2 linked regions of the Homo sapiens genome follow. The protein of the gene in region 1 binds, or shares a complex with, the protein of each later gene. Each region holds a gene or a part of one and is shown on either strand. Other genes may lie near its edges.

Region 1 (6,327 bases):
GCTCCTGTCCCTCCAGCACGTCCCCTGCACCACGGCATAGCTTAGGTGCGCCGTCCTGGGGTCGCTGCCGAGAGCGCCTGGACTTCGACGTCCCACCAGCGGGCGCCTCCTCCCAGAGGCTTCCAGGAGCACGAGGGCCTTGCGGCACAGGACTGTGCCCTGTGCTGTCCCCTGCACCCCGGCTCAGCTGAGCTGGGGAACACTGCTGTCGTGTGAAGTCACAGTGGCCTTGTTGGTGCCCACAGGGCTGTGTGGATGGAGGAAGCTGTCCCTGCCCAGTGCATCCCCCAGGTCATCACGGGGACGCAGGAGGCAGGCCCTGCCCTGCCCTCTCCTCACAGGTCTGTTGCAGGGACTCCAGAAACCATTCTGGGAGCCGTGGATGGGGGCGGAGCTGGGGTTTGGTGCAGTTTCCAGGGTGCAGTACAGCAGGGCCTGAATACTGGCCCTGGACTCCCTTTTCCAGAACACCAGGTGTGGCCACCTGGGGCTCAGGTACACAGTGGGGTCTCTCGGAAGCCACCGTGTGGTTCTTTCACAGGCACGTTTATTTTGCTGAAATAAAAAGTTTTTAATCGGGTGTTTTCTGTGGCAGCTGCAAGCTTAGAAGATTTTCTGTGGCAGCTGCAAGCTTAGAAGAAGGGGCCAGGGAGGGGACAGAGAGAGCCCCGTGGCGTGGCCCTGGGCCTCCCCCTAGGGGAGGGATGTGTGAGGAAGGGAACCCCCCGCCACGGGGCCCCGCGAGGTGGGAGCCCGGGTGGTCTTCACCACAGGCTGTGCAGACGGTCAGGCATCGAATGACCTCGTCACGTCCACCTGCAGCCCAGGGCAGTCCAGGAAAACGTTCTCGATGACGGACGTATCCCCCGGCTCTAAGGTTTCGCACGTCAGCCCCACATGGCCACCAAGCACTGGAAACGTGGCCCATGCGCCTGTGGAACTGCATTTTTTTTTTTTTTTGAGACAGGGTGTGACCCTGTGGCCCAGGCTGGAGTACAGGAGCACAATCGTAGCTCACTGCAGCCTCGGCCTCCTGGGCTCAAATGATCCTCCCGCCTCAGCCTCCCAAAGTGTTGGGATTACAGGTGTGAGCCACTGTGCCCAGGTAATCTTAAAGTTTTTTGTAGAGGTGGGGGGTTTCTCTGTGTTGCCCGGGCTGGTCTTTTAACTCCTGAGCTCAAGCGATCCTCCACTTCCTGGGTTCAAGTGATTCTCCTGCCTTAGCTCCCAAGTAGCTGGGATTACAGGCATGCACCACCACGCCCAGGTAATTTTTGTATTTTTTGCAGTGATGGGATTTTGCCATGTTGGTCAGGCTGGTCTCGAACTCCCGACCTCAGGTGATCCGCCCACCTCGGCCTCCCAAAGTGCTGGGATTACAGGCGTGAGCCACCGCGCCCGGCCACCTCCAGAATTTTCTCATCTTCCCAAACTAAAACTGTGCACATGACACACTCTGTCCCCTCCCTCCTCCCCAGCCCTGGGAACCCCCATCCCCACCCAACTCCCCAGTCCCGGGAACCCCCATCCTACTTCCAGTCTCTGACGACTCTAGTGACCTCCTAGGAGTGACATCAGTGTTTGTCCCTTTGGGTCTGGCTTGCTTTGGCCAAGACAATTTTGAAAAAAGTACATTTGGAGAGAAGGGGAAGCACTGTCCCCATCACACACACAGTCCGCGGCCTGGGGATCTGGGGACCCTGCTGCACAGAACAGTGGGCGCGTTACAGACCACCGACCGCCCGAGGGTGAATTACATCTTAATAAAGCTACTGTGAGAGAACCACGTGGCTAGGTTAAACTTGGGCAGGCGAGGCCTTCTGAAATCAGACAGTAAGCAAACGGGGAAGTAGAGCCAGATCCCAAACGTCTGTAAGAGGAACTGGCCGCAAACCACAGCTGCACAAGCCAGAGAACAACTCCACACCCTCACGGGAAGGGAAGAGACAGACACGCTCACGCCTTACCCAGGAGCACGAAGTGGGAGGGCAGGGCGAGGGCCTGGGGAGACACTGACCCCTGAAGCCAGCGCGAGGAGGGCACACCTGCCAGGCTGACCTCGTGTGCTTGGGGTGAGGCAAGGCCACCTGCTGGAAACCTTGTTAGTCGGCCTGGTTTCTGTATCAAGCAAATTTATTTGCTCAAAACATCTTTACCATTTGAAAACACCCAACCTCCTACAACAACCGAGAACTCCAGAGCTGGCATCTCGCACCCTGGTGGCTTGAGCGCGTGCATGGCTGTGAATGGAGTAAAGAGCCGAGGCCGGGCGGGGGCCGCCACGCATCAGGGCCCCCGAGGGAGGGAAGACGAGGGGTGGAAGGCCGAGGGCCCAGGAGGAAGCAGTGGCTGGTGGGAGACCCGGACCCCAAACCCCCAACAGAGGGGACCCAGCGTGGTCTGGGTGAAGACCCGGCACCAGCTGCCCCCAGGTGACCTCCCTCTGGGGGCCTTGTTCCTTCTGAGGCTGCATCTCGCACAAATCCACAGGTGAATGGGGCGGGCTGGGCCACAGGAAGCCTCACCCCAGGACGGGAGAACGTGGGTGGAGGCCACCTGCCTTGGGGAGTCCAGAGGAGCAGCAGCCGTGAGAGCTGTGGGGGCCGGATTCTGGCAGGGCAGGGGCGTTTGTCCTGCAGGGATGGGGGTCGCTGTGTGTCCGCCTCTAGGGGCTAGGAAAGGGGGAGAGTGGTCACACGACAGGGGCAGATCCAGTATGCCCAGGACAGCACAACGCCCACCGAACGTGACGGGGTGCGGGAGGCCTGGCAGGAGGCGGCCCAGGCCGCAGTGCAGAGGCCGGACGGCTCCCTTGTGCCCAGCGGTCACACAGGCGTGGGCAGTAGCTCTGACCTCAAAGGAACCGTGCCAGCGTCAGACCAGGCCAAGCCCCACCCCTGGGCTGAGTGTGAAGTGGGGCGGCCTGCAGGACAGCAGCTCGCCATGACCAGAGTCCAGGGGAAGCTGGGAGGCTCTCGCCATGGGCAGAGGCTGTCCCGCTCCTGAGACTCCGGCCAGTCCCTCCCAAGGTGCCCACTCAGGGAAGGGTTGGCCTGAAGCTGTGCCTCCTCTCTCAGCTCTGGGGTCTCTGGGCAGGTTTCTAAACCCTCTTCTGGAAAGTCCCGCCGCACAACTGCCCTGCAGGTGAACGTCTCCTGCTTCTAAGGTGGGTCAGCGGCGGAGAGACGCACGCCCCGCGTACCAGGACTCTCCCGTCCAGGCGCACAGCCCCAAGAGCTGCAGCCTACGGTCGGGTGGGGTCTGGGGGTCTGGGGGTGTCCTGGGAGCGCCTGGTGGCCCAGCTGGGCTGGTGCTAGGAGGGTCTTGCTGCCGGACAAAGCAAGAACAGCCCTGCACACCGACGGAGGGGACGACACCCCTGCCTCTGACCCCACCTCAGTGCCTGTCCCTCGGCCGTCTCACCTGTCAGGCGGTAGCTACTGCACCAGCCGGTAGGTGATGTACCTGCCAGCCGTCTCACTGGGCCGGATGATCTTCACCACCTGCAGAGACAGAGAGCAGGGGCTGCGAATGCTTGAGGGGTCTCACTGCAGTCACCAGACAGCAGGCGGGCAGCACACGGGCTGGGGATGGCCGGCAGGGGTCCGAGATGGCTGACCCTGGGCTGTGGGACCCGCTCCCTGGGAACCTGGGTCACGCTCTTCTCTGGGCCCAGTGGCCCTGGCTTTAAGAGGGGGATATTGGGGGTGTGGTCTCGAGGTCCCCTCCAGGCCCTGGATCAAGGGGGAGGGGCTGTCGGGGAGGGACAGAAGCCCCCTTCTCCGAGTGGTCAGCTCAGAGCAGCCCCAGGGCCCCTTCTCCCCACAGGGCTCACCTGCCCACGCTTTATCCCAAAGTAGCGCGCCACAGGGTCCCCCGCCTGGATCCTGGGCAGCTGGTTCTCTCGGAGCTTACTGCGAAGCACCGTCAGGAAAATGCCAGACAGGGCCGTTGGGGGGGCAGGGGTGTGTGTGGGGGGGGAACGCGGAAGTCTCGAGGGACAGGGAGGGGCGGGGCCGGTGGGGCTGGAAAGGATACTATCGGGCCAGCAGCTCTGTCACCTCCTCCTTGGTCATGACGACGTGCTCAGGGACTAGCTGCCGAGAGAGGAAGCCACCAGGCATCACCAAGGGCTGGTGAGACCCCACGTGGCTCCCAGGTGCCACCACAGCCCCTGCGCCTTCAGACGGACAAGAGCCCTGAACCCCACCCCGATCCCCGGCACTCAGGGAGCCCACCCACCCCACCCTGGCTCCACAGGCGGGGGACGGAGTCACAGCTCCTGGGGCTTCTGAGGCAGACGGGCTGGGCACAGCCACCTCCTGCTGGGACTCCTCCTGTCCCAGCACTAGGGTCCCTCCACACTCCCAGCAGTCCCGATTCTACAGGCTGGGGTGGGCCCGGGATCTGCATTTTTTTTTTTTTTTTTTTTTTTGAGATGGAGTCTTGCTCTGTCTCCCAGGCTGGAGTGCAGTGGCACAATCTCGGCTCCCCGAGTAGCTGGGACTACAGGCGCTCGCCACCACGCCTGGCTAATTTTTTTGTATTTTTAGTAGAGACGGGGTTTCACCGTGTTAGCCAGGATGGTCTGGAACTCCTGACCTCGTGATCCGCCCGCCTCGGCCTCCCAAAGTGCTGGGATTACATGTGTGAGCCACCGCGCCCGGCCGGGATCTGCATTTCTAGGAAGCTCCCGGGTTCGGCTGCTGCAGGCCCAGGGCCACCCTTTGAGAACCCTGTCCTCCATGCACTAATAGGAACACCTGCCCTGGGCCCCAGATCCCACATCTTCCTGGCCACCCACAAACGCTGCATCTCTGCCGGCCCCACGCAGGCGGGATTCCGCGGCGCGCGCCCACCTCGTGCTCCGTGATGTTGATGAGCAGCTCCTGCTGCAGAAACTGCTCCAGGATGTACTTGGGGGCCATGTCGACCAGGGACTGGAAGAGAGCGGCTCTAAGGCACGGCCCGGAGGGGCCCAGACAACCCCAACCCCATTTCCTGCCTCAAGCTACCTGGGGCTTACTCGTGTGCCCCAACAACACACCCACGTCGTGAATCAGAAAACCCCACCGCCAGCCCAGGAGCCTTCAACAGCCCGCCCCTCCCCAGCCTCTCTGCTCATCGAGAGCCTCATCCAGCAGTGAAGTGGCCGTGGAAACTCGGATGTGTTTCCATCCATCACACGCTTCCAGGGGCGGCCCTCAGAGCTGGCAGGGCGACCTCTTCCCCATACAGGGGTGCTGCTCTGTGTGGCTGCGTGAACCCCACAGCTGGTGGGCCAGGGACTAAACTGCTCTGCTGACTGCCCGTCACAGCACAGCAGCCTGGCTCCAGAGTGTCCGACAGACAGACGGGGAACACGGATAGGCCCCTGGAGGACCCCGTGCCGGGCCTCCTCTGCAAGTCCCCCTGGACATCAGCTCAGGATAAAGAACCTCCGGCTCCTGGAATCTGCACCAGGCCGAGGGCTGGAGCCCACAGGAGCTGGCGAGAGGCACAGTGCCCTCCGCCCTGACGCCCCTCCTGAGAGCTGGGGGAGGACGGCGGCTGCCTGGGGTGGGGCCCATGGACGCGGTGGGAGGGAGGCGGTCGGGGCTTGCCGGACATCCCGGCCACATCCTCCAGGGCACCCTGGCTGGCCTGGCCCAAAGCCCAAGGCACGTGGGCCGCCTGTGGGTACTGCTTGCGGGAGGAGGCTGGGGAGGGGGAGAGGCTGGCGGGGTGGGGCAGGGGTGCCCACCTGCTTGGCGGAGGGTGTCATGCCCTGCTGCACCACGATGAGAGCCCGTGTGATGTTCTCCTCCTGCATGCGCTGGCAGTACACCTTGATGGTCTTGATGCCCACCTTGGGCTCCTCTGCAGACAGAGAGTGTGCTGGCCTGCACGAGCCTGGGCCCTCGTGGCCCTCGCCCACCCAGAGCCCAGAGCACCCAGGTTCCAGCCCCATTCCACACAGGTGTCTCTCCTGCTCGGGCCTCGGCTTCCGCGTTTGCAAAACGAGGCCTGAGTTGCAGGATCCCAGGACAGGGGAAGAGAGGGCTGAAACCTCTCATTCACCCGGAGACAGGGACAGGGGGCTGACACCCCTCAGTCACCCAGAGACCAGGGAGAAGCAGAGACCTTCGACTCTGAGAGGCTCCCACCCTGGGCAGTTCTGGGGAGGCGGGTGACTCAGCACCAACCTCTCCAACAAGCAGACCTCACACCCCAGGACGCTCTCTTTAAGAAGCATCACCTGAGGCCGGGTGCGGTGGCTCACACCTGTAATCCTAGCACTTTGGGAGGCTGAGGCAGGTGGATCACTTGAAGTCAACAGTTCTAAAC
Region 2 (7,388 bases), on another chromosome or scaffold:
CATACACAAAGCAGTAGCTTACTTGTTTGTAACATATTAATGGAAATGGCATTAAATAACCATGTTACACATTTAGGAAAATCTATGTAAAAATTTTTTGGAGGGAGGGGAAGCAATGTATCCTTTTTTGTTCAATAATTATCCACATTCATTTAAAAGAAAAGTTTCTTCTCATCTCAATATAAAGTTCGTTTATATCAAAAGAAAACATCAAATTCAGGTATAAAACATCATTAGTGATTATAGCTCCAAGATACCAAAATACAACTAGTATCATTTGTTGCAAAGGCAATGTGAATGGCATATGATAGAAAAAAGACATCTTCAGCTATGAGATCTATCCATTTAAAAAAAGAATCTAGACACTTGCAATTTTAAAAGATGCTGAAATACTATACATTTTATTAAAGTATGATTAAATCTTATATATACTTCTTATAACTTTAATATATAGTTAACATAAATAAACCTCCCACATATTATTCAGAATTCCTATAATAACTCACCCTATTCTTCTTAAGGTTAGAAAGTTCATCCACCACAATTTTTTGTTCTTTAATCTATTGAAATAAAGAAAAACTCCTTAAGTCAGATGTTTTCAAAGTATGCTCAATGAAAATCCCTTAAGGGGTTGTTTTAAAATTAGAGATGGGATAAGGGGCTATGATGTACTGGTTTTCCAAACGGGCAGTTTGTGAATATACAGATCATTTTCAACAGGAGTCTCTGTGTGGGGGTACAGTTCAGGAAAAGCTGGAGGAGAAAAAACAGTGATTAGACTTGCAAAATGTTAGGTAACCCATTAAGACCAGACAGGGATTTTCGTGTTCATAACCAGCAATCATGCCAAGGACTACAGTTACTAAACAAGGTTTATACCTTTTGTTAAAAATATATGATATACACCAGGCCGGGTGCGGTGGCTCATGCCTGTAATCCCAGCACTTCGGGAGGCCAAGGCGGGCGGATCACCTGAAGTCGGGAGTTCGAGACCAGCCTGACCAACATGCAGACACCCCATCTCTACTAAAAATACAAAATTAGCCAAGCGTAGTGGCACATGCCTGTAATCCCAGCTATTCGGGAGGCTGAGGCAGGAGAACTGCTTGAACCCGGGAGGCGGAGGCTGCAGTGAGCCAAGATTGCACCACTGCACTCTAGCCTGGGCAACAAGAGTGAAACTCCGTCTCAAAAAAATAAATAAATAAATAATTTAAAAAATATATATATATGATATACACCAAAAGGAATTAAGTTGTGATTTAGATTGAAAATTAAGTTGTGATTTAGATTTAAAAAAAAGCAAATTGAATGAGGGGTGGGTTACTTTTTTCAATATTTTCATGATTTTATGTACTAAGTGCTGCAGTCAAACATTCAAATCAAGCAATGCCCTATTTGGGGACAGTAAGACCTATCATGTTCCATCTTGGTATTTTTCCCTCTTTTTATCTCAATGACTAGCATAGAGCTGGCACTGTTGAACTGGGCTTTTTTTTTTTTTTTTTTTTTGAAACAGGGTCTTGCTCTGTTACCCAGGCTGGAGTGCAGTGGTGCGATCACGGCTCACTGCAGCTTTGATCTTCCCGGGCTCAGGCGATTCTCACACCTTAGCCTCCGAGTAGCTGGGACTACAGGCCTGGGCCACCATGCTGGCCTGGGCTTCATTTATTTGTAGGGGAGGGCTCAACTAAGTGAAAACTAAGTTTCTTTTTAACTCTATTTATTTTGTGAACATGACTGATTACATAGTATCACAAGAGCCTCTAAAAGCAGCTTTTATCATATTTGTGCTACCTCACACACACCTCAGGGATCTGTAACCACCAGTATGCGTAAGTGGCTTGCTATGGTGGTAATCAGAATGGGCTGTGTGTCTTTTGAAAATTCACCCCCAATCCCCATGAATGTGCACCTTTCTGTCTCCCCCGTTGGCAGAGCTGTAGTAATGAGGTTGAATTCCAAGGCCAAATTTGTAAACATTCTTTGAGACTTAACATTTATACAGGGCTTTCCCATTTTAGGAATGACAGGTGTACATTTCACTTTACTTCAAAGAAGGTAACTGATACAGAAAGATTAAAGAGACTTGCCCAAGATGTCATTGTAAGTTTGGGACAGAACCAAAGTAGAATCTAGGACATGTAATACCTGAAGGGCTATAACCCTCGCCACCCCCATTTATCTTTAAAGGTTGTTTGTTTATGGCAGTTAAGGCTTATATTATATTGGCTTCCTCTCTCCCCCAGTTTGGTATGAGTGACAACCCAATGCGTGTTTTAGGACCATTGCTCTGGTTAACGGAGAAGCAGCAGCTAACAGGTGGATGAGGAGAGACCGCTTAGGAAGGCCTTGCCGGGGGCAGGGGTCCCGATAGCAGATGACGGTGGCTTATTTGGGGTGGTAAGAGTGTTCACGGTGATAAAGGGACATATTTGAAATGAGCTTCAAAGGTAGAACTGATAGGCTTCCATGATGGGGGTCAAGGATGGACCCCGGGTTGCTGGCATGGTTAACTGGATGGAGAATATCTTTGATGGAACAGATTTGGGGTGGGCGGTATTTCCAAAAGTTTAAAAAGACTAGGGAGGAAAACACCCAACCAAAACTCCGCCCCACTGTCACCTGGGTCCAGTCTCGGGACAAATTTCAAGATCTCCCTTTTCGCAACTGTTTTCAGAAAATAAAAGGACTAACTGTGGCTGTCAAGTGCTATGAATAAAAAGAGCAAAGTAGCAGGGCAAAGCCGAGGCCCAGGCAGGCCCCACGCTGCCCGCTGCGGACCACCTTCAGGGTCCAGTGGCGCCCGGTCCCGAGTCCAGGAGCCTTTTCGTCGCGTCTCACACTCACCTTGCTGCTTAGATCCTCCTTGTGTGGGGTCGAATTGTCGGTGGGGATCAGCACAGAGCTGTCCTCTGGTCGCGTCCCTCGGCTGGGCATTTCCACCGAGCGCAAGACACGCGGGATGGCTCAGCCCTGAAGGAGCCTACGGCATTAGCCACAGCGCATGCGCGCTTCCAGCCGCGCTCACCCTTTCTTTTCCCGCGAGTCTTACCAATAGCGTCTGCGCGCTCACTTGAACGCATGCGCAGGCCGGGTCTGGCCTGGGGAGGAGTTTCGCGCCTGCGCATGGCTGCTTAGGGAGCGAGTAAACAGTCTGGTTGCAAAATCTGAGGTTCCTGTACTGGCCTCTTGTGGTTGAGATGCAGAAACGCTCAGGTGGTTTCTTCATGACCTCTTATCTAGTATACTACGAGTTCTGTGCGCCCTCCAGTGGTAAATATGAAGAATAGTCGTGCAATAGAAACAGCGCTTAATATGATATTTATTATCTAGGGAAAGATGAAGCTAAGGAACAGATTTAAGAGATACCGTGTTGGCAAAAGAACTGTACAGACTTGGTAAAGTTTTGGTTAACTCGTGGTTAGGGTTGCCGGATAAAATACAGTATGAACTTCAGATGAATTAATAGTTTTTTAGTGCATCTATGTCCCGTGCAATATTTGCAATATCTCATTTCTGTGGAAAAAATGACTAAAACTTGGAAATAGGCAAAAGAGATTTATTTACTGGATGCTCTTTCAGTGCTGCTCTGGACTTGACTTTATTATATTGACTGGGCTGTTTTACAATTCTGTAGGGGCAAAGGTTAACTTTGGTAGAGATTTTGGTTTGGTAGAGATGCAAATAATTTTTTGTTGTACCAGATACCAACACAGGTTATGATTTATTGTTCTGCAACACATTAGTCAGTTTTGTATCTAACCCTGCATTCTGTCCTAACATTTCTTTATTAACATATGCCTAGCTTCTCTAATATTCTGTATTGGTTTTAAAGTCATCGGTTCCCTCACTAACCAATGAGTTGAATAAAAGTTTGACATGTATATATTTTATGTTCACATTAGAGACATGATTTTAGGTTTTTGATAATTATACTATATTATTGGAAATCTTAAGTTTCCACAGAGATGCCCAACTGGATTTATGTGATGAATCAAACTATCTGGCGAAAGAAATGTATACATCATGGGTTGTTTAAGGCCAGGCATGTTTTTTATTTGCTCTTACAGAAAACCCAAGTGGTTATATATTTTTCCTTTATAATTGATTTTTAAAGATTGTGTTTTCATTTCTGATTTGTACATTCCTGATAAGTTATTCAGGTATAACTTATACATTACTGATACATTGATAGCAGCAATGATTGGGAGTTTGGTTTTGTGGTCTAACCATTTGGTGGTATCTGTTGGATGATGGACGTCTAGTCTCATTGGTAGAGAGGTAGATAGGTGCAGTGGCTCAAACCTGTAATCGCAACCACTCGGGGCTGAGGTGGGAGGATTACTTGAGGCCAGGGGTTCAAATAAATAAATAAGAGAGGTGACAGAGAAGCGAGTTTGTAAGTCTTTTTGTTTATTGTTTGTGAGCTCAAATTAATTAATTACTTTTGTGTCCACTGAGAGGGAAGGAGGACAGCTATTTGAGATGTGGGCTAGTAAGGTTTTGTTTGTTTGTTTTAACATAAAGGCCGCTCAAGCAGAAGAACTGGTGAATTTTTGTGGTTTTGTGTTTACTTTTGACCTGAGATTGAAGTTGTAAGACAGAAGCAATAACCTCTTTATGTGTCTGTGTGTCTGTAACTTAGAACAGGCTTTATGTCTCCCTTTGTAAATATGAAATATTTCCCTACTTCTGGAGTGTATTAATAAATCCCACTATAGTATCTCTAATTAAAGGGCCTCTGTTCTGACTAGTTTATAGAGAAAAATAAGCACTGGTATAATCCCAATATTTTTAAAAGCCCAGAATTTCCAATACTTTAAATGTGCCAGATTTTTAAGGAAAAAAGTTCTTACAAAACTGCTAGCTTAGAAACATTTTAAGAATCCAAGTTTAGGAAAAAGAGAGCTCCAAAGTGAAGTATCACTTCACTTTGTTGTTGTTGTTATTTTGAGACACAGTCTTTCTCTGTTGCCCTGGCTGGAGTGCAGTGGTGCGATCTCTGCTCACTGCAACCTCTGCCTTCTGGATTCAAGCTATTCTCCTGCCTCAGCTTCCCAAGTACCTGGGATTACAAGTGTGTGCCACCATGCCCGGCTGATTTTTGTATTTTTAGTAGAGATGGGGTTTCAGTATGTTGGCCAGGCTGGTCTCAAAGTCCTGGCTTCCAGCTATCTGCCCGCCTCAGCCTTCCAAAATGCTGGGGTTATAGGTGTGCGCTGCCAGGACTGGCTTCCACTTTGTTTAGAGGTAATAGTGAGGCTTATCTGTAAAGCTGATGAGACTGAGCATCCTAGCCTATTGGTCTTCTTTGTACCCCACCTTCTATTATAGTGTCTGGCAGAGTGGGAGCTCTGGTTAAAGTTTGAATTGGTTCTGACTCACAATCATGTCCACATCGAGTAGCCGGAAACACCCAACACCGCTGATTGGTCTACAGCTGTTCACCCCGTTTTGGGAAGTGGGCTGTTGCTTACGGCTCTGCCAGGTTCTGATGTTTTTGTTTATTCACAAGGGCTGCCCAAGACAACATAGTACTAAACAAAATAGTACTAAACAAAGTGGTGATAATAATTTTAGTATGGTGCTAAACTGTCTTAAAAGTGCTTTCACACTTTGTCTTATTTAAAAAATATTTATCTATTTGCTTCTATTTCCTCCTTCAGCTGCTCTAACTTCTGCATTGCTTGAAGTCAGCTTTGGGGTTAGCTAGTACCATGTGTCATGCCTAACTGGCTCAGGACTGCCCATCTGCAGCCCACCATACAACTGGAAACTATGTCTTCTCTTCCAGTGATTCTCAACAGAGCTAGGGGTTTCCCTAGCTGATGCTTGAAAAAATGTTTGGAGGTACTGTTGGTTGTCACAGTGATTGGATGGTTCTGTTAACTCTGATGGGTAGGACAGACTGGAAGTCATTTGAAAGGAGACAGACTCAACTACAGACTCTTCTAAGAGGCGTAGACTAGCAGACCAAAGGGAAATCTCAGCAAGTAGACAGTGCTGGTAATTGCCGGTGGGGGGAGGGGGTTGGAGAGGGGGAAGTAAGGTAGGCTGTAGGACCAAGGGGGTGAAGTCAAAGGAGAGGTAATATCACAGTCTAAATAGGTGATTTATATCAATAATTCTGCCAGAAGGTGACAGGGCCTGAGATATTGGACTGATGTTTTCCACAAGGCTCTAGGATCTGGGAAAGGAACTACTGGATCCTTACCATAAACTCTTTGCAGGGAGAACGCAGGGAGAATGCTTTGTCGCCCTAGTAACAAAGCACATCAGGCTGGTCTTGGTCTCTCAAGGGAAATGGCAGAGTTTCCAAGTACTGGTCTAGAGATTAGTAAATCCTTTTTACTTGAGATAAGGCTGGTTCTCAAGCTTTGCTTCAAAGCTGTGGAATGCGGACATCAGGCCTCCCTGACGCTTGCAGCCAACTTCACTTTGGAGCTCTTGTGCAGGGCTGAAACAGGATGTGGTGAGTGTGGTAGGGTGCAAATTTGAAGATGCACTGACTCTCAGGTCCTGCAGTAAGTGCTCTTTAAATTTTCTGCCCAGGTGCCTCACATGCCTCATCTAAGCATATTCGTCTTCTTTCCAATCCACTGCTCTCCTGCCAGTTGGATTTGAAAATTTCATTGTTGGTAGTTCTGTTTTACAATCTAGAGGTCAGTGTGGTTTGTGAATGTCACCAATGAAAGATGTTTTATATGCTGCCCATGCCTGTTGTATCTTCACATAGTCTGACAGCTATAAAGAAGGTTAATCGAAATTATCTTGGCTTCTTCTAGAACTATTCCATATGAGTGCCACTGTCCACCTCTTTCCCAAAGATTCAAATATGGATGCAAGGCAAAGAAAATATTTGATTGGTTAAAGTGGACCAGTAGCCTTATTTGGATCATTCCATTGGAAAATCCCTAGTTAGAGGTTAGTTGTTGGTTTCTGATTGGTTAAGCTAAGTTCTGTTTACCTAGAATATAACCTTTTAGCTTTTGGTTTGTTTAGGTAGGCACTCAGCTCTAGAGCTGCTTCAGTGTAATGGCCTTCCGATTTATTATTTTAATACTTCCTTTCTATGTTTTGGAAGAGTTTTTGTAGAATTAATGTTATTTCTTCTATTAATATTATATAGAATTTTCCAGTGAATTTATCTGTGCCTAAAGTTTTCTTTGTTCAATGGTTTATAAAAACTATTATTTTTCTTTTTTCTTTTTTTTATACTTTAAGTTCTGGGGTATATGTGCAGAACGTGCAGTTTTGTTACATAGGTATACATGTGCCATGGTGGTTTGCTGCACCCATCAACCCATCACCTCCATTAGGTATTTATCCTAATGTTATCCTTCCCCCATCGCCAACCCTCAGACAGGCCCTGGCGTGTGATGTTC

The links. The genes of interacting proteins can lie anywhere in the genome.
Region 2: POLR2E (region 1) and ASDURF share a complex: the UniProt entries of both Homo sapiens proteins name them as parts of the PAQosome complex.

The regions. Positions count from the first base shown.
Region 1 is NC_000019.10:1,086,049-1,092,375, forward strand, and holds the end of POLR2E (DNA-directed RNA polymerases I, II, and III subunit RPABC1), read right to left. Parts: intron 5,860-6,327; coding exon 5,744-5,859; intron 4,941-5,743; coding exon 4,860-4,940; intron 4,098-4,859; coding exon 4,039-4,097; intron 3,918-4,038; coding exon of another isoform or gene 3,915-3,917; coding exon 3,836-3,914; intron 3,504-3,835; coding exon 3,438-3,503; 3' UTR 3,424-3,437; intron 2,673-3,423; 3' UTR 526-2,672; downstream 1-525. UniProt on the Homo sapiens protein: DNA-dependent RNA polymerase catalyzes the transcription of DNA into RNA using the four ribonucleoside triphosphates as substrates.
Region 2 is NC_000002.12:189,657,073-189,664,460, reverse strand, and holds the start of ASDURF (ASDURF protein), read right to left. Parts: upstream 3,003-7,388; 5' UTR 2,941-3,002; coding exon 2,851-2,940; intron 561-2,850; coding exon 507-560; intron 1-506.